4 linked regions of the Homo sapiens genome follow. The protein of the gene in region 1 interacts with the protein of each later gene in a biochemical or structural test. Each region holds a gene or a part of one and is shown on either strand. Other genes may lie near its edges.

What was found.
Region 2: the proteins of APBB2 (region 1) and MAPK8 form a complex in vitro, tested with the Homo sapiens proteins (one study listed by BioGRID).
Region 3: the proteins of APBB2 (region 1) and WWOX form a complex in vitro, tested with the Homo sapiens proteins (one study listed by BioGRID).
Region 4: the proteins of APBB2 (region 1) and NFKB1 form a complex in vitro, tested with the Homo sapiens proteins (one study listed by BioGRID).

The regions. Positions count from the first base shown.
Region 1 is NC_000004.12:41,206,769-41,212,480, reverse strand, and holds part of APBB2 (amyloid beta precursor protein binding family B member 2), read left to right. Parts: intron 1-5,712. UniProt on the Homo sapiens protein: Plays a role in the maintenance of lens transparency, and may also play a role in muscle cell strength. Involved in hippocampal neurite branching and neuromuscular junction formation, as a result plays a role in spatial memory functioning.
Region 2 is NC_000010.11:48,309,262-48,314,536, forward strand, and holds part of MAPK8 (mitogen-activated protein kinase 8), read left to right. Parts: intron 1-5,275. UniProt on the Homo sapiens protein: Serine/threonine-protein kinase involved in various processes such as cell proliferation, differentiation, migration, transformation and programmed cell death.
Region 3 is NC_000016.10:79,210,496-79,214,527, reverse strand, and holds the end of WWOX (WW domain-containing oxidoreductase), read right to left. Parts: exon of another isoform or gene 2,921-4,032; coding exon 2,732-2,920; 3' UTR 1,861-2,731; downstream 1-1,860. UniProt on the Homo sapiens protein: Putative oxidoreductase. Acts as a tumor suppressor and plays a role in apoptosis. Required for normal bone development. May function synergistically with p53/TP53 to control genotoxic stress-induced cell death.
Region 4 is NC_000004.12:102,507,444-102,512,718, reverse strand, and holds part of NFKB1 (nuclear factor NF-kappa-B p105 subunit), read right to left. Parts: intron 1,840-5,275; exon of another isoform or gene 1,787-1,839; coding exon of another isoform or gene 1,770-1,786; intron 1-1,769.

The DNA of each region.
Region 1 (5,712 bases):
GTGGTAATTGAAAAGCTGGATGGTGAGGTGGGAGGATTGCTTGAGCCTAGGAGTTTGAGGCTGTAGTGAGCTATGATCACGCCACTGCACTCCAGCCTGGGCAACAGAGTGAGATCCTGTTTCTGAAAAAAAGAAAGCTTGATGAGCTAAAGTGCAAAATACTGGTGTTTACACTTAGCTGGAGTAATGTGAATACTGACTCCAAAATTACTTGGGAAAAAACTATTGCATATATTGTAAGAATCCACATGTACAAACATAAAATATTTTTAAACTGGTACTTTTTGTCATGTTTCAACCTTTTGATGACTGTTTTCTTTTCCTGCCACCAGAAAAACAGCATATGAACATTGAATTCTTTTATTTTTCTGTTACCACAGGAATGAATACTGAAAGCCTTGTCATAATATTAGAATAATGATGTGTGTGGACTATCCTGAGTACTGGATATCTAAATTTATCTTTTAAGAAAAATGGAAGGGAGAGCATCAGGAAGAATAGCTAATAGATACTGGGCTTAATACCTAGGTGATGGGTTGATCTGTGCATCAAACCACCATAGCACATGTTTACCTGTGTAACAAATCTGCACATCCTGCACACGTACCTGGAACTTAAAAGTTGAAGGAAAAAATAAGAAAAATGGTATGTCGTGTCTCTGTACCTTTTTCAATTTCATTTTAAAAATAGACAATACCTGGCCGGGTACGGTGGCTAACACCTATAATCACAGCACTTTGGGAAGCTGAGGCGGGCAGATCACTTGAGGTCAGGAGTTTGAGACCAGCCTGGCCAAGAGGTAAAACCCCCGTCTCTAAAAAAATACAAAAATTAGCCGGGTGTGGTGGCTCCCGCCTGTAATCCCAGCTACTGGGAAAGCTGAGGCAGGAGAATCACTTGAACCTGGGAGGTGGAGGTTACAGTGAGCCAAGATCGCGCCACTGCACTCCAGCCTGGGCAAAAGGGTGAGACTCCGTCTCAAAATAAATACATAAATAAAATAAATAAATAAGTAAATAAATAACAAAACAAAACTGGACAATACCCTTGTGATATAACACCTTAAGTTTTCCGGGGGCGGGGGAGGGGAGCAGGTGGGACAGACTTTTAGGAAAATATTGTAATAAGTTATTACTGGTTATGGGGGGAATACTTATTTTCCTACATGGGGTTAGGAAACCAGCATTTGTTCAGTGCCTAGTATTATTATTATTATTATTATTTTTGAGACAGAGTTTCAGTCTGTCACCCAGGCTGGAGTGTAGTGGCGCGATCTTGGCTCACTGTAACCTCCACCTCCCAGGTTCAAGTAATTCTCCTGCCTCAGCCTCCTGAGTAGCTGGGATTCCAGGTGCCCGCCACCACGCCTGGCTAATTTTTGTAATTTTAGTAGAAATGGGGTTTCACCATGTTGGCCAGGCTGGTCTCCAAGTCCTGACCTCAGGAGGTCCACCAGTCTCGGTCTCCCAAAGTGCTGGGATTACAGGCGTGAGCCATCACGCCTGGTCTGTTCAGTGCTTTTTATGTGTCCTATTATCCTATTAAGGTTTTGTATATATCATCTTATGCTGTAAGCATCTATGCATAAATGTCAGCTGTCTAAGAAAACCCCTCTGAAAAGGTAGATGCTCGTGATTTCACAGCAATAGAGCTTTAAACTTTTATCTTATATGAAAATATCTTTAATTGATTCCATTATTATTCAGTAAGCATTCTCTTTTAAAGCATCTTTGATTTGTTATTTAGAATTAAATTTGATTGGAACTGCATATCTTCAGAATGATTTGAATGTTTTCAAGAAGGTTCTATCCAGATTTTAAAACTGTTTTGTGTTCATTTATTTTCAATAATGTTGCACTACCAACAAATGAAATTAGATGTCAGAAGATAAACCCAGATTAGCCATTTTGATTTTAATGTGTTATTAGTGCATATTCTGCATGCTGATATGTGTTGACGGCATTTCTCTCAGCCGAAATGGTTTGTCAGAGGCAGAGTAACAGACTCTCCATAATAAAGGGTCTGGGGGGATTTGGAGGAAAGACTACTAACCAGGGACCCCAAAGACTTGCCTTTGGGGCTGGCTTGTCCCTTACTTCAATTCACTGTGTTACCTGGAAAAAGTCAGTTATGTCTCTGGGCCTGTTTTCCCATCTGTAAAATGAGAGAGCTGCAGTCACCCTCTGGTTGTCTATCGGGTCCTTCTTGTCCCAGTCTAGAGATCTGTGATGCAGCCATTCGAGGAGAGAGGTCTTCGTTTAAGAGCAGGGGTCCCCAGCCCCCTGCTTCGGACCTGAACTGGTCAGTGGCCTATTAGGAACCGGGCCATAGAGCAGGAGGTGAGCGGCGGGCAAGTGACCTTTACCACCTGAGCTCCACCTCTGTCAGATCAGTGGTGGCATTTGATTCTCACAGGACTGTGAACCCTGTTGTGAACTGCACATGTGTGGGATCTTGGTTGTGCACTCCCTATGAGAATCTACTGCTTGTTGATCTGAGTTGGAACAGTTTCATCCCAATCCCCAACCCCATCCGTGGAAAAATTGTCTTCCATGAACGCTGTCTGGAGACCACTGGTTTAGAGCATTATTTGGAGGTGATTTTGTGTTTCCCTGTCTGGTTTGTCACTGCTTTGTCCAATGCCCTTCTTTTTTTGCCCAATTCCTACTTCCCTTATAGTTTTCATTTGTTATAAAATGGTTGTCATAAAATTAACTTTATGGCCCTGCCAGTCTAGTTAGCAGATAAGGTAATGATTAGATTTGGGTAAAGTGTATTCGACATTTGAAACTACTTCATAGCATTTTCTGCGGGGAGACTTTCTGCTCTTGAGCACACAGATAGTCTGAGAAAGAAACCTCTACCTAGGCTGCAGGGGAGGGGGTCCTGTGCTTTGCTTCCCAGGCCCACCCTTGTGAAATTTTGGCAAGCCTTTCCTGTGTCCCAGCCTTTGTCTCCTCGCCTCGATGAGAAATGCAGCCCTTGGTCTCTGGAATACGACTTTCACTCTCATTTGACGTTAGCCCTGTCACTGTGTTGGACAGATGCCTGTGATTGGCTGCTGCAGTAGCAGGAGTGGTGGCTGGTGAAATGTGTCTACTCAGTGTCATTAGCAGGATCATGAGCTTTTTTTTCTTTTTTCTTGGCAAGCTGCGATGGGGCAGAGAGCAAAGGAAACCAATCCCATTTGGTGTTTTTAGTGCATTTTGCTTTCAAGAGGCTCACAAAACTCAGCCTCATTAACCTTTAAGTGAGTCAGTGAGGAGTTGTTATCCCATTGAAATAATTTTTAATAAAGGGAGAGTGACTCTAGTTCCTCTAATAACCAGGCTCCAGGGTTCCTGGACCCCTGTTAGGAGTGGGTCATTAACTCCAGACATTAGATGAGAGCTGGGAGAGAGGAAGGGCATAGAGGGTGGAAGGTCAAGTCACACAACTGGGCAGGAAGTAAGAAGCTTGATCAGTTTAAAGGTATTAGAGCTCTTTGTGTGTAGAGTTACAGGAGATATTCCCTTTCTATATAATTTATTTCCATGGTGTTTGAATCTTATCTTGTTTTCTGTAATGGACGTATATTTATTTTATAATCAGAGAAAAATCCCAATATATAATTTATTGATATATAAAATGTACAGATTCACATGGACAAATACGAGAAGAGAACATGGAAAGAAATGAATGGTATAGAAAAGGATGGATTAAAGCTTTTCTTTGTTGTTGGTTAATGACTTGACAGTGGTTATAAACAAAGTTTACCAGTTCTACCCTCTCTTTTCCTCTTGTGGAAATCTTGCAAACTTTGTTTGCTAGGTAATAACTGAAGTTCCCGAAGTGTAACTCATTGGCAAGTATGCTTCAGGAATGCTTAGAGTGGGAGGAAGAGTGTCGTTTTTTTTAAGTTGATGAAAAAGAATGCAGAAACCGGGAGCAGTGGCTCATGCCTGTAATCCTAGCACTTTCGGAGGCCAAGGCAGGTGGCTCACTTGAGGTCGGGAGTTTGAGACCAGCCTGGCCAACATGGTGAAACCCCGTCTCTGCTAAAAATACAAAAATTAGCCGGGCATGGTGGCACACGCCTGTAATTTCAGCTACTCAGGAGGCTGAGGCAGGAGAATCGCTTGAACCCAGGAGGTGGAGGTTGCTGTGAGCTGAGACCGCGCCACTGCACTCCAGCCTGGGTGAAAGGGCGAGACTCTGTCTCAAAAAAAAGAATGCAGAATATTGGAATCGAGGTAGAAGGAAAAACGTGTGTTTAAGAGGGTGAGATAGATTGGAGAGACTTTGCGGAATTCCAGAGGGTAAAGGGAAATGCCATTGTTGAAGAAGGAAGGCCTGGCATTACTGGAGGTATGGGATGTGTCCCTGTCGTGTAAGTCAGAGCTCAGTTTCCACACAATATAAAAGTAAATGAGTATCTCCTATATGCAGAGCATAATGTTAGCCCCACAGGTCATTTATTGTTGGTTAGTGGTTTTCACTGTTCTTATCACAATGATGATAATGATGTAGTGAATATGTCATAATTGTTCAAATAAGAAGATATGTCCTTTTCTCTGATACTATGCCTTTCTCATTTTTGGGTAAGATTCTTTTATGATTTGATAGGAATATTTTTATCTAGCCGCTGAATGGTCCATGAAATTGGTAAGTCTGGGAATCTGGGCCTGAGATGCAGGGAGGCCTGCCCTTGGGATTGAGTTGAGTCATGGAGGCCAGGCCAACATGTGGAGTTTGTGGGTCAGCTGATGGGGCCCCTGGGCTTTCCAGGAATATAGAGTCACCCAAGGTCCTAGGAACTGTGAATGAGCTAATTTTGAAAGTGCCCTAGGAGCCAGTGACTATTTTTGAATTATAGCTTGAGAATGACAAGGAAAGCACCAAGATGAAAGATGAGGGTGTAAGGGAACAGAATGGGCAAGTGGTTGAAGTGTGAATTTCAGCAGGTGAACCTCAAGATGTATCTTGACATTTGATTCTTTGCATGCAGGCCTCTTTCTGGCAAAACAACACTCTTTAGCAATTCTTAGTTAGTGATTCTAGGAAATGGTGATGGGTGAAAGCCATAGAACCTAGAATTGTGTAATAGCCAGCTTGGCCCAGACCTCTGCAGTATCATTCCCTCCAGGGTGAGCCTTGAATTGCTGGAGGAAGCTTCAGAATGATTTGCTCATGGAATTGCTGTTATTCACCTTTAGTTTTGGTTGCTATTGTGGGGTGAAGAAGGAGTGTCAAAACAATAACAACAAATTATTTCCTTTTTTTTTTTTTTTTTTTTTTTTTTTGAGACGGAGTCTCACTTGGTCGCCCAGGCTGGAATGCAGTGGCTTAATCTCGGCTCACTGCAACCTCCACCTTCCAGGTTCAAGCAGTTTTCCTGCCTCAGCTACCCAAGTAGTTGGAACTACAGGTGCCCGCCACTGTATCCGGCTAATTTTTGTATTTTTAGTAGAGGCTGGGGTTTCACCACTTTGGCCAAGCAGGTCTCGAACTCCTGACCTCAAGTGATCTGCCCGCCTCAGCCTCTCAAAGTGCTGGGATTACAGGTATGGGTCCTCTCCCTGGCAGCATCCTGCTTGCTCTTTGGTGCTGGCTCTGTTCTTACCTTCTGATCTTCCTTCTGTTTCTCAGGTAGACTTCTGTCCTGGGCAAGAGTCGACCTGCCACATTGAGTATCACAATTTGCTAGGTGGTATTGTTTGTCAGTGGAAGTGA
Region 2 (5,275 bases), on another chromosome or scaffold:
CCTTGATCACCATCACTAATTCCAGAACATTGTCATCACCCCAAGAAGAAACACCATATCCATTAGCAGTCACTCTGAATTTCACTTCAAATTATCCTTTAAAGTAAGAGATATAGCATCGATTCTGTTAGTAAATATATTCCTTTAGTAAGTATGAAAAGGGCTCCTTTTAAATGTCCTGTCCTGGCAGAATAGGAAACTATATCCTTCATACTCCTTTAGATCCTGGGGGAAATGCCATTTGGAAAGGAAGTCAGTGCAAGAATAAATTGTATACAAATTAATGTGGTTATAATCTTAACTATTTGCTCCATGCCTGATATTATCAAAGTGACCTTGTGAGGATGAGATGTTCAGTGAAACAACTTGAAGGAATTTGTTGTTAAATGACTAGTCCCCAACTATCCTAGTGCTAAGAGGTTGTTGAATAGGAGCCTGCTTCTTGTTGGTCTGCTTTGCCAGCGGGTTGAATTTTGACATATTTCAGTCATCTACATGGTTGAGATGCTTTGTTGCACGAGTGGAAATACAAAATAATGTCTGACATTAGGATTCCAGTGCTCTAGAGGTCTCTGGTCAAGTCAATGGTATGGGTAGTAGCTTTTCTGATTCATGTGGTCCAAGGAAGTCATTATAACCACATAGCTTTATATATGAATCATTTGCCTATGTCAGTGAACTGTGATGCTGATTGTCTTAATCATGAGCTCTTTACCTGAACATTTAGAAGCCTTGCATTCTTACTCTTAATGCAGGTTAAGTTGAACTTTGATTTCAGAAGTGAGTTGACTGAAAGGTAACAGGAGTATTGAAATGAGTTATCCTGTCATTCAGGTCAATAGGTGGAGCTAGAGCAATCCAGGAATCAGACCTAGGTTCATTTCTCAGTTCTGCCATCTGGACTTTGTCATCAAATTCTGGAGCTTTAGGCAAGTGCCTTAATGTTTTTGGCTTTAAAAGTATAAACTGAGGCTGTCAGAACTTTTTTTTATAGAAGGCTTGTTCCTCAGATAGGTGGTTCTTGAGAAAACATACTAGGACAAAAAGAGCCCTTCTTGGGTGATAATCAGAAGCCTAAGTTAAGAACAGTAGTCAAAGTTAGGATTTTGTAATTTTGTAATTTTCAGAAGCCAAAAAAATTGTTGAGTTGAATTTTTTCTTTAATATCCAGACTTAGAAAACAAATGGAAGGCTTCACCATAAGCTAGAGATTCTTGGAAAGGTAGGCTTTTATTTATTCCACAGCATCATGCCTTCTAATGAGACCGTATGCTCCCAGAGACTTTGTGGAAGACATAAAATGAGTTCATTATCCTCAGGAAGCTTATAATCAAGGATTAGACTGAAGGCATCGCTAAACAGTTAATTTATGCTCTTTTAAAAGGTATATGAAAGGGTTCCCGCCAAACAAAAGCCCACTTCACATCTCTGTGCAGGCCAAATTTCACTGAAATCCAGTTTTTAAAATTGTGTGTGTGTGTGTGTGTGTGTGTATGTGTGTATACGTATGTGCATGGAGAGAGACAGAGAGGAGACCCCTTTTTGGAAAACTTAGTAGCTTCCATTCTTTTTCTTGGAGGTGGGTTATATCACAAATACAAGAGATACCTGTGTTTCCTGTTACCCTTTATTATATTTCAGATTTAGTTAAAATCTGCCATTCTTTAGAAAGTCAAGGAACTCAAACCTTACAATGATTGCTAGCGTGGGTTTTAAGGTCAGCCCTGAGTTCTAATCGTGCTCCAATCTAACTGTGGTATAGGCTAGTTCAGGTTATATAACATATTTGGGCCTGTTTTATTATCTGTCAAATGAGAATAATAATAGCACGTAACCTCATAGGGCTGTGAGGTTTAAATTAGGTACTGCATGTAAAGTGCCTGGCACTGTTGTGGTGGCTGGAATGCTAGATACAAGTATTCAGGTAGTTTTTGCTATTGTTATCACTTATATTTAACTTTGAACAAACATAAAATGCCAAGTAAACGTCAAACCAGTTTAATGCACAGTGTCCATTCTAATTCTCCAGAATATGCCATTTGTTTCACTCTGCATCTCTGGGGGGTTTATTTAAAATTCGATCATCTCATGTAATCTGAATTGACTGAGATGATTTATATTAACATTTGGACCAGTAATCCTCTCTATCTTAAAATTTGGAAATGTTCCAGAAGCAAATATTGAAGGGAACATATTTGCCACTTTCACGATTTTTTGCCTTTTCCCACAGGAGAAAATTGCCTAAGCTTTCCTAGGTTTGTTATAGACATCTAAAGGAATGAGAATTTAGGAGCTACGAATAGCTTTATCATGTGACACATTTGAAGAAAATGGAATGCTGTCACATCTTTTAAATTTAGTGTTATTGGGATCTTCGATTCTGTGAAGATTGCAGATTTGTCAGAGACCTGGTAACCACAACAATTCATTGAGGCCTGGAGGCCTCTTAAAAAATGAGGGAGATTATTTATTAGTACCACTTAGAAATATTATCTTTTCTGTATTTTCTGTGGTTTTCTAAGTCTTCTGTTTAGCGTTTCTATGATTATAATGGTGGATTAAATTTCTTGTTCCTTCTCAAGAGCATCTACTATGAGATGACACTGGTTTTTACTTCGGCAGTATTTACTGAGCATTGCACTATACTAATCCAGGTATTCGGTGATGTAGGAACCAAAGGAAATAGAAGTCAGTTTCTACCCTCAGTGAGCTGAGTATAATTTGATAGAAGATAAGGATTAACGTAAGCACATTTATGTCCTAACACAAGGAAGCAAATATTGTTAGTCATTTCATTAGGAATTTCTTTTGTCATTGGGGCATTTGGGGCCTTCCAAACCTTACATCTCTTGCCATGCCTTTGTACTCACTCGATAAACCTGAGAAAGCAAGATATCTTCTTTTCTGATTCCTGGTTTAAGTTGAGAGTGTGGTGCACATTAGTCAAAATCCAAATCATAAGAAAAGGCAAACCTTATGAATTCATTTTGGAATACAACAGGGTATCAAAATAAGTATATGAGAAATATGAAAAGCTGACAGTAGAAAAGATGCTACTCAGGTACTAACCAGAGTTCTCAATCTCCTCTGTATTGAAGCTCTTATGATGTAAGGCTGGATCTGTACTAGAAACACTTTTTAAAGTCTCTCTCCAGTATTGAGAAGTATAGTCCTCCAGTACTGCCTCTTGGTGCTGAGAGACTCAAGCCTGCCACCCACCATATTTCTGGGGAAACTAGAAACGAAAAATAGCCACACACAAGCACTTGCTTTGCTTGGCAGGAAACATCAAAACCATAAGATGTTATTTCCTAAAAGTCATTAATTGGGTAGAAAAATCACCATTTTCTGACTTGTTCCAGGAAGGATGGCTTTCTGATTTTCAGATGCCATTGGGTCAACCAAAGGTAAGATAAAGAAAAGCTACTGCTGTGTGGATTTTTCTGTGACTTGAGAAAGCGTCACTTTTCAGTTAAACAAAAACCAAAGCATCTAGCTTTGGCTGTTACTATTGAGAATTTAAAAGTCTTAATGTTTTAATTTGTTTACATTTTATATTTTGACTAAGTAGTAATGAATTCACTTTGACTCAAAATTCCAAAGATTTAAAAAGATAAAGAATCTCCTTTTCTACTCTGTGTAGCCACCTAGTTCTTCTGCCTGGAAACTGTTAAAATTCCTGTGAATACTTCCAAAGATAGTTTATATATGTTTAAGTATATAATCCTTTGTTCAAAATCCTTGGTCCAGATGTATTTTAGAATGAAGGCTTTTTTTGCAGTTGTGGAAAGATAATGTAGCACATCTACCGTGTTATCCAAAATCCCTAGTAAGAGGTTGTAGCCTCATGATTAAACACATTAACATTTCTGTAAAAAATACAGACATAGGCCAGGCGCGGTGGCTCACGCCTGTAATCTGAGCACTTTGGGAGGCCGAGGCGGGCGGATCACCTGAGGTCAGGAGTTTGAGACCAGCTTGGCCAACATAGTGATACCCCGTCTATACTAAAAATACAAAAATTAGCTGGGCGTGGTAGCGTACGCCTGTAATCCCAGCTACTTGGGAGGTTGAGGCAGGAGAATCTCTTGAATCTAGGAGGCGGAGGTTGCAGTGAGCTGAGATCGTGCCACTACACTCCAGCCTGGGCGGCAGAGGTGTAGACTCTGTCTCAAAAAACAACAACAACAACAACACCCAGAAATAATCAAAGACATTAATATTTTTATAAAAGCATAACAAATACAAGTAGGGTGAATAAAGATTATAAAATCTTATGCTACGTCTCGTCAGGTTTTACCACCAAATACGTTTGTACTAAACTTATTTTAAAAACGTATTTTTCACAGCTTTATGGATTTTGGCTTTGCCAATGAAGGATAGGTGTCATACATATATACAGTACTGTATAGCCTCTGCTCTGCTCCCTCCCTTTTTATTTAATGTAAGTTGTTGCATGCAATATGTATCACCTTTTGCTTTTTTGTTTTTTGCTTGTTGGTTTGTTTTTTGAGACGGAGTCTCACTCTTGTTGCCCAGGCTGGAGTGCAGTGGCACAATCTCAGCTCACTGCCACCTCTGCCTCCGAGGTTCAGGTGATTCTCCTGCCTCAGCCTCCTGAGTAGCTGGGATTACAGGTGATCCACCTGCCTTGGCCTCCAAAGTGCTGGGATTACGGGTGTGAGCCACCGCACGTGGCCTGCTTTTTGTTTTAATATAGCTGAGAGATTATTTTATATCAGTCATATCAGTATGTAAATGGCATGCTTTTTTAACATCTTTGTGGTATTCCATTTGTCTTACTCTGTTTGGGCTGCTATATCAAAATACCATAACTTGAGTGGTTTAAACAACAGAAATTTATTTCTCACAGTTCTGGAGGTCGGGAAGTTCAAGATTAGGCTACTTAGTCAATTTGGTTCCCTGGTGAGGGTCCTTTTCCTGGCTTTATAGGTGGCCGGCTTCTGGATGTATCCTCACATGGCCCCTAAGAGCTCTAGTCTGTTCCTCATCCTATCATGGGGGCTCCACCCTCATGACCTAATATAGTCATGAGAGGCTTAGTTAACTCCTAAAGGTCTCTCCTCCAGATACTATCAAGTTAGAGGGTAGGCCTTCAACATATGAATTTGGAGGGACACAGACAGTCCATAACATCATTATACTGGTATACCATTTAACTCCTTTCTGATGCATATTTAGGTAGTTTTCAGACTTTTGCTATCAAAAGCCATGGTGCAGTGGATTACCTTGTGCATACGTCGTGTTGCACTTA
Region 3 (4,032 bases), on another chromosome or scaffold:
AGGCTGAGGCAGGAGAATCGCGTGAACCTGGGAGGTGGAGGTTGCAGTGAGCTGAGATCATGCCATTGCACTGCAGCCCGGGCGACAGTGGTAATGTAGCCTGCTTAGCACAGTGTGTGGCTCGGGATCATTGTCACAATGATGGAAATTATTTTCCTGAACATAAAGCCTAGTCACCCAGAATCATTCTTTCAGTGGTTATTTATTAAGTCAGTAAGTTTGCTGTGTGACAGGAGCAGTTCAAGGTACTGTGGCCAAGTTGTGAAGAAAACAGACAAATTTCATGGAGTTTCTTATAGTGGGTAGACAGAAAAAATAGACACATAATGTGTACAATAATATTAAGTGTTGTGGAGAAAAAATAGAGGGGAAGGGGAATAAGAATGGGGTGACACCATGAAGACAGGGATAACGTGAGCAGAGACTAAAAATCAGTGAGGAAGAAAGGCATGCTGGTTTCTGGAAGGAAAGCATTTCAGCAGAGGAAACAGCAAATATGCACCCCTTGAGTTGGGAGTGTGCTTGGCATGTTCGAGGAACAGAGGAAGACTAGAGTGGCTTCTAGTGGATAAAGTGCTGGAAGTTGAGATTAGAGAGGTAGCTGGAGACCAAATTATAAGAGAAGTAGGGTAGAAAAAAATTAACCTTAGTGAGCTGAGAAGCTGTATCAGTTAGCTTTTGCTGAGTAACATGTAATCCTGAAACTTAGTGGCTTAAAATAAACTTTTACTATCTTTTGCATTGCTGTGAGTGAAATGTGCAGTTTCTTCTCCTCTGAATTGGCACAGCTGGGGCTGGATAGTCTGGGATGGCCTCACTTACATGTCTAACTAACTAACTGCTGGATGCCGGTTCTGGGAGTGACTACGTGTCTCTCATCATCCAGCAGGCTAGCCCAGGAGCCGTTCCCTATGATGGAAGTTGCAGGGTTCCAAAGATCAACAAGGAAAGGCAAGCCCCAGTGCAAAGCACTTTCCAAATTGGCCAAGGCCAGTCACATGGCCAAAGTCAGAGGTCATATGGGAGGGGTGATCCCCTCCAGGTGTAGATTCTGAGAGTGGAGTTCTGACGGCTGCTTTTGCAAATGACAATAATGTCTGAAAAGTGACATTATCTGATTCATAGTTTCAAAGGTCCTGTGATAATAAGGATTACGTAAGGAAGACTATAGCCAGATGGGAGGATGTGGCAAGGCTATGGGCCACTGGAGGGCAATGGTGTTTGTTTGTTCGACTGCTCTGCACCACAGATGCAGAGGCACAGAAGTTCAAGACATTGTCTGGCCTGAAGCTGCCATGATCAGGAGGGGGAACAATGACACCCAGCCTCCACACCTTCCTGGTATTTCAGCAGAAGCATTTTCTCCGTCTTGCCAGAGTGGACTTTCTCATGTGCTTGCTGGAACGGGCTGGAAATCATGGTGTCCATGAGATGGGATGCGCAGATAAGAGCTTCTGCACAGCTCCCATTCTCAAACATAGAGATACCCGCTAATCACTAAGTACTTGCTAATTGCAGGGGAGCAGACCATTGAGGACTAAAATAACTCACTGTAAGTAAGTAATAACAAAACATCTTAAGGTGAAATGAAACAATAGTCATTTTTCTTTTTTCTTTCTTTAACAGAAAATATGCTGGCATGCTAATCGCGTGAGACAACTTGGCCCACGGACAGCCACAAAGCACAAAAACAAAACACAAACTCACTCAGAGAAGAAACAAGAATCGTGTTTTCCTGGCATCTACGAGAAGCGCTTTATTAGAAGCGCTTTATTTTTCCTCTAGATTTCTTTTCTAAAAAATGAAAAACAAAAACAAACTGAAACAAACATTTAAAGAAACAATACAAACTTCAGGTGATGATATTCAAGCATGTTCTTTTATTAAGCATAGGATGCGAGGCACAGCAGGAGGTTTAAGTACAATGTGAAAGCAAGAGAACTGAGACTGTGATTGACAGACAAAGGGATTAACTAACGTTTTATTCTCTGCCCCCCAAAATATCCTGTGTATTCTTAAGTATATACGCTTCCCTTCCTGCCTTTCAAGGTATCTAAGGAATGATTTGAAAAATTTGTTATAATCTCTAAAGAATTTTTTGCATAGCATTAGCAAAGGAGTCTATGACAAGTACTTTGCCACCTGGTAGTTCTGCGTATTCTACTCCCTCTGGGTGTCACTGTCATCCTCACTGGCTGGGACAAGGTTCTGAGATTTGTCTCCCCAGCAGTTGCTAAGCTGGCTCAGTCTTGGTCAGGATGAATGAAACAATTATCTCCTGGATCAATGCAGCAAGGAGCAGTGAACACTTGCTTTTTCTTCCCTAAGTAGGAGAAGGCCAGCCCCCGGCTGCAGTGGTGGCCGTGGTGGTAGCTGGATGGGACGAGGGGACCTCAGGCTATTCTATAACAGTAAAAGAAAGAGAATTGCTGGTGCTTCTCCAGGGAGATACGGAACCTACACACCAAGCAGGTTTTTACTTTCAAACAGGCCACCACCAGAAAGCAAAGAGACCTATGCCTAGCCCAGCCCCAGAAAAGTGATACTTTACCCCAGGAATTCCCTGCTTCCCATTGGTACTTAAGATTTTTCACTCTGTTGTGACTGCTCTTATTTCCTTTACTCTTGCGGATCTGTGTTGGAGGGACATTTGGAAGGGGCCCAGCCCTGGCACTTGCGTGAGGGGACACACACAGGGCGGGTGTGTGTGCCCATCCGCTCTGAGCTCCACTTAGCCGGACTGGCTGCCAAGCCGTTCTTGGATCAGCCTCTCGCTGAGCGCCCACAGGGTCCGGGCCGTCTCTTCGCTCTGAGCTTCTGGTGAGGGCATGCAGCGGCAGCAGTTGTTGAAGTACATCCCTCCCAGACCCTCCAGTTCTGGGACAGCAGCACAGTACACGGTGGTGGCAGCTCCCTGTTGCTGGAAATCCAAGAAGAAAGACAAAAAAAAATTTTAAGAAAAGGAGTGATGAGATGGCGTCATTTCGACTGCCTGGGCATTAGCAGGCCTCCCCCACCTGGTTCAGTTTCAGCTGGATCTTGGCATAGCAAAGGGTACTGGGCTGAAAGCACATGACTGTAAAAAGTATAATGTGACTATCCTGGAAAAACGAGTTCATAAACTCCGCTTGTAAAGCTGGTGTAACTTTTGACACCTCATACAGGGACAGGCTTGGAAAATAAATACACATATCAATACGTCGTGGCAGGCGCCTCTTCCACACAGAGAAAAAGATGGTATCCTTCTGAACGTGCAAGAACAAATTCATCCAACCCCTCAACTTCTCCATGTATAATGTAATTCGATACCAAATCGTTTGTAGAACCTTCTGTCTGACAAACCAACCACTCTTAATTGTGGTCCATCAGGTAGAAAACCCAAGTGGGGCTGCTGCCAGATCATCCCTTTATGCTTTGCCCACGGTGCTGCTAGGGGAAGGGTTGGCAATGTTGTGTTAAAACATTTAATGCACACACACACACACACACACACTCCTCACCATACATTCATACTTAGCACAAACACATAACACATTAATTCATCCAGATCCCATGAAAACCTTTTTCTAAATGTCATATTTGACCCAGATTTACAATGGGACCACAGGTAAGGGGGTACATTTCCTCCCAGCCCACTTCAAAATGTAAGTTGCAAAGAGTGCAGCTGATCACTTTCATTCACCTTTTGAGTAACAGTTGCGGCTGTGGCTAGGGACGTGTGCAGTGATGAGGCATCATATCATCCAAACTGACAGAATACTGTCAGGGATGCTATAAAGAGGGCAAGAAATCACTTTGCTTTGCAAGCCATAATTAAAAATAATAGGCTGCTGTTCAGAGGGAGACATGGTCGGCACGTCTCTAATTTAAAACCAATACAGTTTATCTGGCATCTTATGATTATTTATGTGTTTCAGAGCCCTAGCTGCATCCACTAATTTTCAGCTGATGAGAGGGAGAGGGGTTGCAAGAGAGGACCGGAAAAGGTAACTGAAGATAAGCTCGCCCCCACAAGGAAAACACTAAGGAACT
Region 4 (5,275 bases), about 61 Mb from region 1:
GCCATCAAAATCAGGCTCCATGAAGCCCTTTCTACACTGACCACTCATACAGATAAACGCTTTAACATATACATGGCTGGGTGTGGTGGCTCACACCTATAATCCCAGCACTTTGGGAGGTCCAGGTATTTGGGGACAAGCCTTGGCAACATAGGGAGACCCCATCTCTACAAAAATTTTAAAAAGTAAAATAAAATTAAAATTTTGCCAGGTGTGGTGGTGCATGCCTGTAGTCCCACCTACTTGGGTGGCTGAGGTGGGAGGATAGCTTGGGACCAGGAAGTCGAGGCTGCAGTGAGCCATGATTGCGCCACTGCATTCCAGCCTGTGTGACAGAGCGACACCACATCTCAAAACAAACAAACAAAACAAAACAAAACAACACACATACAGATGTCAATGTATAAACTGAGTGGGGAGAAATAGGTGAACTATACCTCTCTCTTCTATGTCTGATAACATCAGATGTGAATACTTCTTTCTCCCATGTCTCTGTCAGTGACCCTGGCTACTTGGTATTAAGCAAAATATTTACTTTTACATTCATAAGTAATAAGTAAATGAGAATGTAATCTGTTTTCTATTTTTTACTAACAACTGAGGAAAAACAGTATTTTGTTTAGTGAGGAATATCTGAAATGAACTGAGCTTAGAGCCCAACTGACACAGCAGAGTTCCCGCTGGTGTGAAGCTCATTATTAGCACCTTGGAATAATGAATTCATTCAGTCAACGCTCCATTGTCTATGTGGATATATATGAGTCACAGAATTGACATACATATAATCCAAAAGTTGTTTGTGAAATCTTTTAAATGACAGTGGAGGGAAGGGGTCCTAACTAAGAAAGGGCAGATAGGATGCTTTTGCAGTGCTGCCAGTGTTCTATTTCTTGACCACCCACTAGGTTAAACGTGTTCACCTTGAGATAAATCACTAAAGTTGCAGCATTAATATTTGTGTACTTTTTTAGCTATGGGATTCTTCAACTTAAAAAAGGCTAATGTAAAAATAAAGTTTCTCTTTCTATTTTTTTTTTCCTTTTTTGAGACAGTCTTGCTTTGTTGCCTAGACTGGACTGCAGTGGCACAATCGCTGCTCACTGAAGCCTCAACCTCCCAGGCTCAAGTGAACCTCCTACCTCGGCCTCCTGAAGAGCTGGGACCACAGGCATGTGCCACCATGCCCAGCTAATTTTTAAATTTTTTGTAGAGACTGGGGTCTCGCTATTTTGTCCATGCTGGTCTCAAATTCCTGGGTTTAAGCAATCCTCCCTTCTCGGCCTCCTGAAGTACTGGGATTACAGATATGAGCCACTACGCCCAGCAAGAAAATTTTAAAAACTGAAAAGACTACATGATTTAAGCTCCATGAATTTCTGGATTTCTGTCTTGTTTGGCACTGTGTGCCTTGTCCTTAGAACTGTGTCTGGCACATAGAAAGGACTCAACATATATTCAAATAAATCACTGTTAAAGAAATAAAACCCTACTTATGTTAATCAGCTTGATTTAATCATTTCACAATGCATATGTATATCAAAACATCATCTTGTGTACCATAAACATATATAATTTCTGTCAACTGTACTATACTAAAGCTGGAGGTCAAAAAAAAGGAAGGAAAAAATAATAAAAAAATAAAAATCACACTATACGAAGATGGAAGAGCTTCTATAAACAAGCAATGCTTCCCCTACTCCACCCCTCCTCATCTCCAATCCTGCTTTTTAAAGGCTGACTTTTTAACACTCTTTTTCTTTTTAGTTTACCTGGTGGTTCTTTTCATATCTCCAAGATATGCTTCTGTCTTTTTTCTTGATGTAGGACGTTGTGTTCCTTCTAGGAAGGAACAGAGGAGGATTCAGCTCATACTACCACCACCTCCCCTTCTTCTCCCTCCAAATATAGTTATAATTAGTGAGACCTTGAATCAATCTAGCATTTAAATATTAAACTTTACATTCAATTTTTGTCTCAAGTTTTCCATAAATTTCTTTGGAGAAATATGAATGCGAGAGACTGAATAATAATGAAAAAATGCAACACCAGAAACATCTGGATTTGAGAAAGAACCTACACTGAGACCAAAAATTATAACTTATTATCGACAAAATGGGCAGTTCCTCATATTATCATACTGATAATCAAGAATTGGCTTGGTACTTACTCACATGCATTTTTCTTAAGTTGACCTATCTTGATATGGCAAGAAAATCTGAAGTCTTCCAATTAATACAATTACATCAAAGAAACACATAATTTTAGAGAGAGATGCTCATTTTGTCAAACCTCATTTTTTTTACAGAACAAAAATAAGACTCAGAGAAGTTAATTAACTTGCTCAGAGCCACACAGTTAATTGGCAGCACTGTCTCTTGATATCTTGTTCGGTATTTACTTATTCAGCAAACACACCAGGTGCTGTGCAAATAAAAAGTAAATAAGATGAACTCCTTGCCCTCAAGATGTTTCTTTTCTAGGACCCACAGGAATTCAGGAGAACACAGAATGGGGGCACATAACTCTTTATGGAAAGGGGAGGGAGAAAACAGAAAGGCAAGTGAGAGAAATGGTGATGCTCAAACCAGGCCTAAGGGTTTAGAAGTTAGCAGGATGGCTAGGAAAGAAAAGGCACTTCTCATACAGGGAGGGCATAAGCAAAGGCATTCAAAGTCAGAAACTGTGGATAGGAAACTGAAAGTCGGTGTGGAGGATTTGAGATTAGGGGATGGTTGGGGAACACCGGAGGGAGTAAGGGGGTGAGGTGTGCGAGAATCAGCTTGTGAAGACAACTGGGATTCACTGCAGAGACATGATCCGATTTACACTTTAGAAAGCTGACCATTATGCGAAATGAACGATGGGTTAGAAGCAGGAGACAATGCAAAAATAAAATCTAGAAATTCAACGAGGAAGGGATGGATTCTGGAGATGAGGAGGCTGCCTTGATAGAACTTGGTGACTGACTGAAGAAGAAAGCTGAATGTATAAGAAGGGCTTCTAGATTTCTGGCATGAGAAATCTACTGAATGGACCCTAACAGGCTAACAACCGCATTCCCTAATGTGCTGGGGATACCAATCTGTGCAAAGGGGTGGGGATCAAGGATGATGAGAAATTTAATATTGGCATATAGATGTGAAGATACTTAAGTGCCTCAGCAATAAAATCATTTCTGTAGCTTGCCTTGAATGACTGGACTCCTACAGTTCAACAGATACTCAGTAAATATAGCACAATTACTCCAAAAGTCATCTATTTCAACACAGGATTGAACTACCTCTCTAAGCAACTTGGATTGACTCCTATTTGGCTATTACAGAAGACTTTCTAAGAGAAATGGGATACTTCCCCACCCATCACAAAAAAAGAATTGTAACTGCAGGGTAAATGATTATGTAATGGTTTAAAATAGGAAATATTTTTAAAGTTTCTAAGGATTGCTTTTTAAATTTGGTTAAATGTCTTAAATGGGAAATCGAGTAAATATATAAAGAGACACCATAAAGACATTATCTCAAATTAACGCTATGATATGGTATGAGAGTGAGTAAATGCATTTGACTATTGTTGGACTGCTGTGCTTTTGATTTTAATTTCCCAGGTACTTATATTTGCTTGATCGCAACTGACTTCTAAAGTGTTTTTTCATAATGTGGTGAAAAGTCCATTCTTACCAGTTTAGCAAAAATATGATAATCCATTATGAAATGTCTGCCGAAAGGTTCTATCCAAGGGCAATCTCTCTTACTTCTTTCATTATGACCCTCCATGAGATGAGATATACAATTTATCTCATTGTATTTCTCAACCATGAGATATATGATTTGTCCTTTTATTTATAATTCTCATTCACTTTCTAGATTATTCTATCTTCACATTCAAGTTGATAACAAAGTTTAAGTCTTAGTTTTATAGAGGACTCTTCCCCCTAAATCTTTATGCTTTCATTATCCTTTGCTTTGACCAATCTTTCAAAAGACTCAGGTTTAAAATCACATACACATATACAAACGATGCTTAACCTATTCACCTTATCATGTATTAGCAGTATAATAAATGAATGCATTAAATGAATAGGGTAGAGAAATGGCTATATTTTTGGTTCATTTTAAGCCATCTCCTCTGAAAAGTAGTTCCCCAGGTTTTTTGCTTGGTTTGAAATTAGCAGTATGAACACACTAAAAATTTTTTTCCTATTTCCTAGATTGTATATTCAGTTTTCAGTTTTGATTTTACGTAAATCAATTGCTGATTTAAGTACTTTCCTGACTATCCAACTGAGCAAAAAATTAAGTGTAATTTAATTTTAATTCTTAACATTGCTTTCAACTTCTAATTTCCTCTACATAAATAGCCACCCACACATGCTTCTTCCATCATTCCACATCATCATCATTTTAATTTTATAAATCATGAAGGTTCTTGTATTATATGCAGATGCTATAAATTGTAAGGTATTCTCCTCTGGCCTCATTACCAAGTCCATACCCCATTTAAAAGAAAAAGACACTGAAGGTTATAGATCAAGTCTTAACAGTCAAACACCAATACATGTTTAAGCCTTACAAAATAAGCCTATACTTAAGAACTGGTAGACAAAGAGGTTCTTCAAATATCAATAAAACATGATTTGGGAATTTGTGTTAAAACATCCAAAAATAGTTATTTTCTCATTCCTAAAATTCTTGTCATGGAAGACATATTTTCTAAGACAATTAAGTAATCTATTTTCACTATTTAAATGAACTGCAGGCTTGGGCTTAGAACCAATAAATAGGTTGATTAGGGAGTCTGTCATCACTTTTATGTTTTCTTTTTTACATACTTGTTATATGGTAGAATTGACGTCTGGGATAAAGAGGGATAGGTGTGCCCTAACACTGAAATATGGTATAGTATTTTCAGTCCAAATGACATGATAAATAATAAAAATAATTTTTTGAAATAACTGCTTTTAACAAATAAAAGTCATTAAAAACAAATTGCTTTTTAAAATGGGACATTATAGAGGTATGCTCAACTTTATGCAGGTCTTATACTTTCTTTAGTTCAAGTTAGTGAAAAGTAAATCCTAGAAATATTAGTGAGCCTCATTTATCAAAAAGGTTCACCTTGGCCAAGCTAGGTGGCTCACGCCTGTAATCCCGGCACTTTGGGAGGCTGAGGCGGGTGGATCACTTGAGGTCAGGAGTTTGAGACCAGCCTGGCCAACAGAGCAAAATCCCATCTCTACTGAAAAAAAATAAAAAATAAAAAATAAATTACAAAAAAA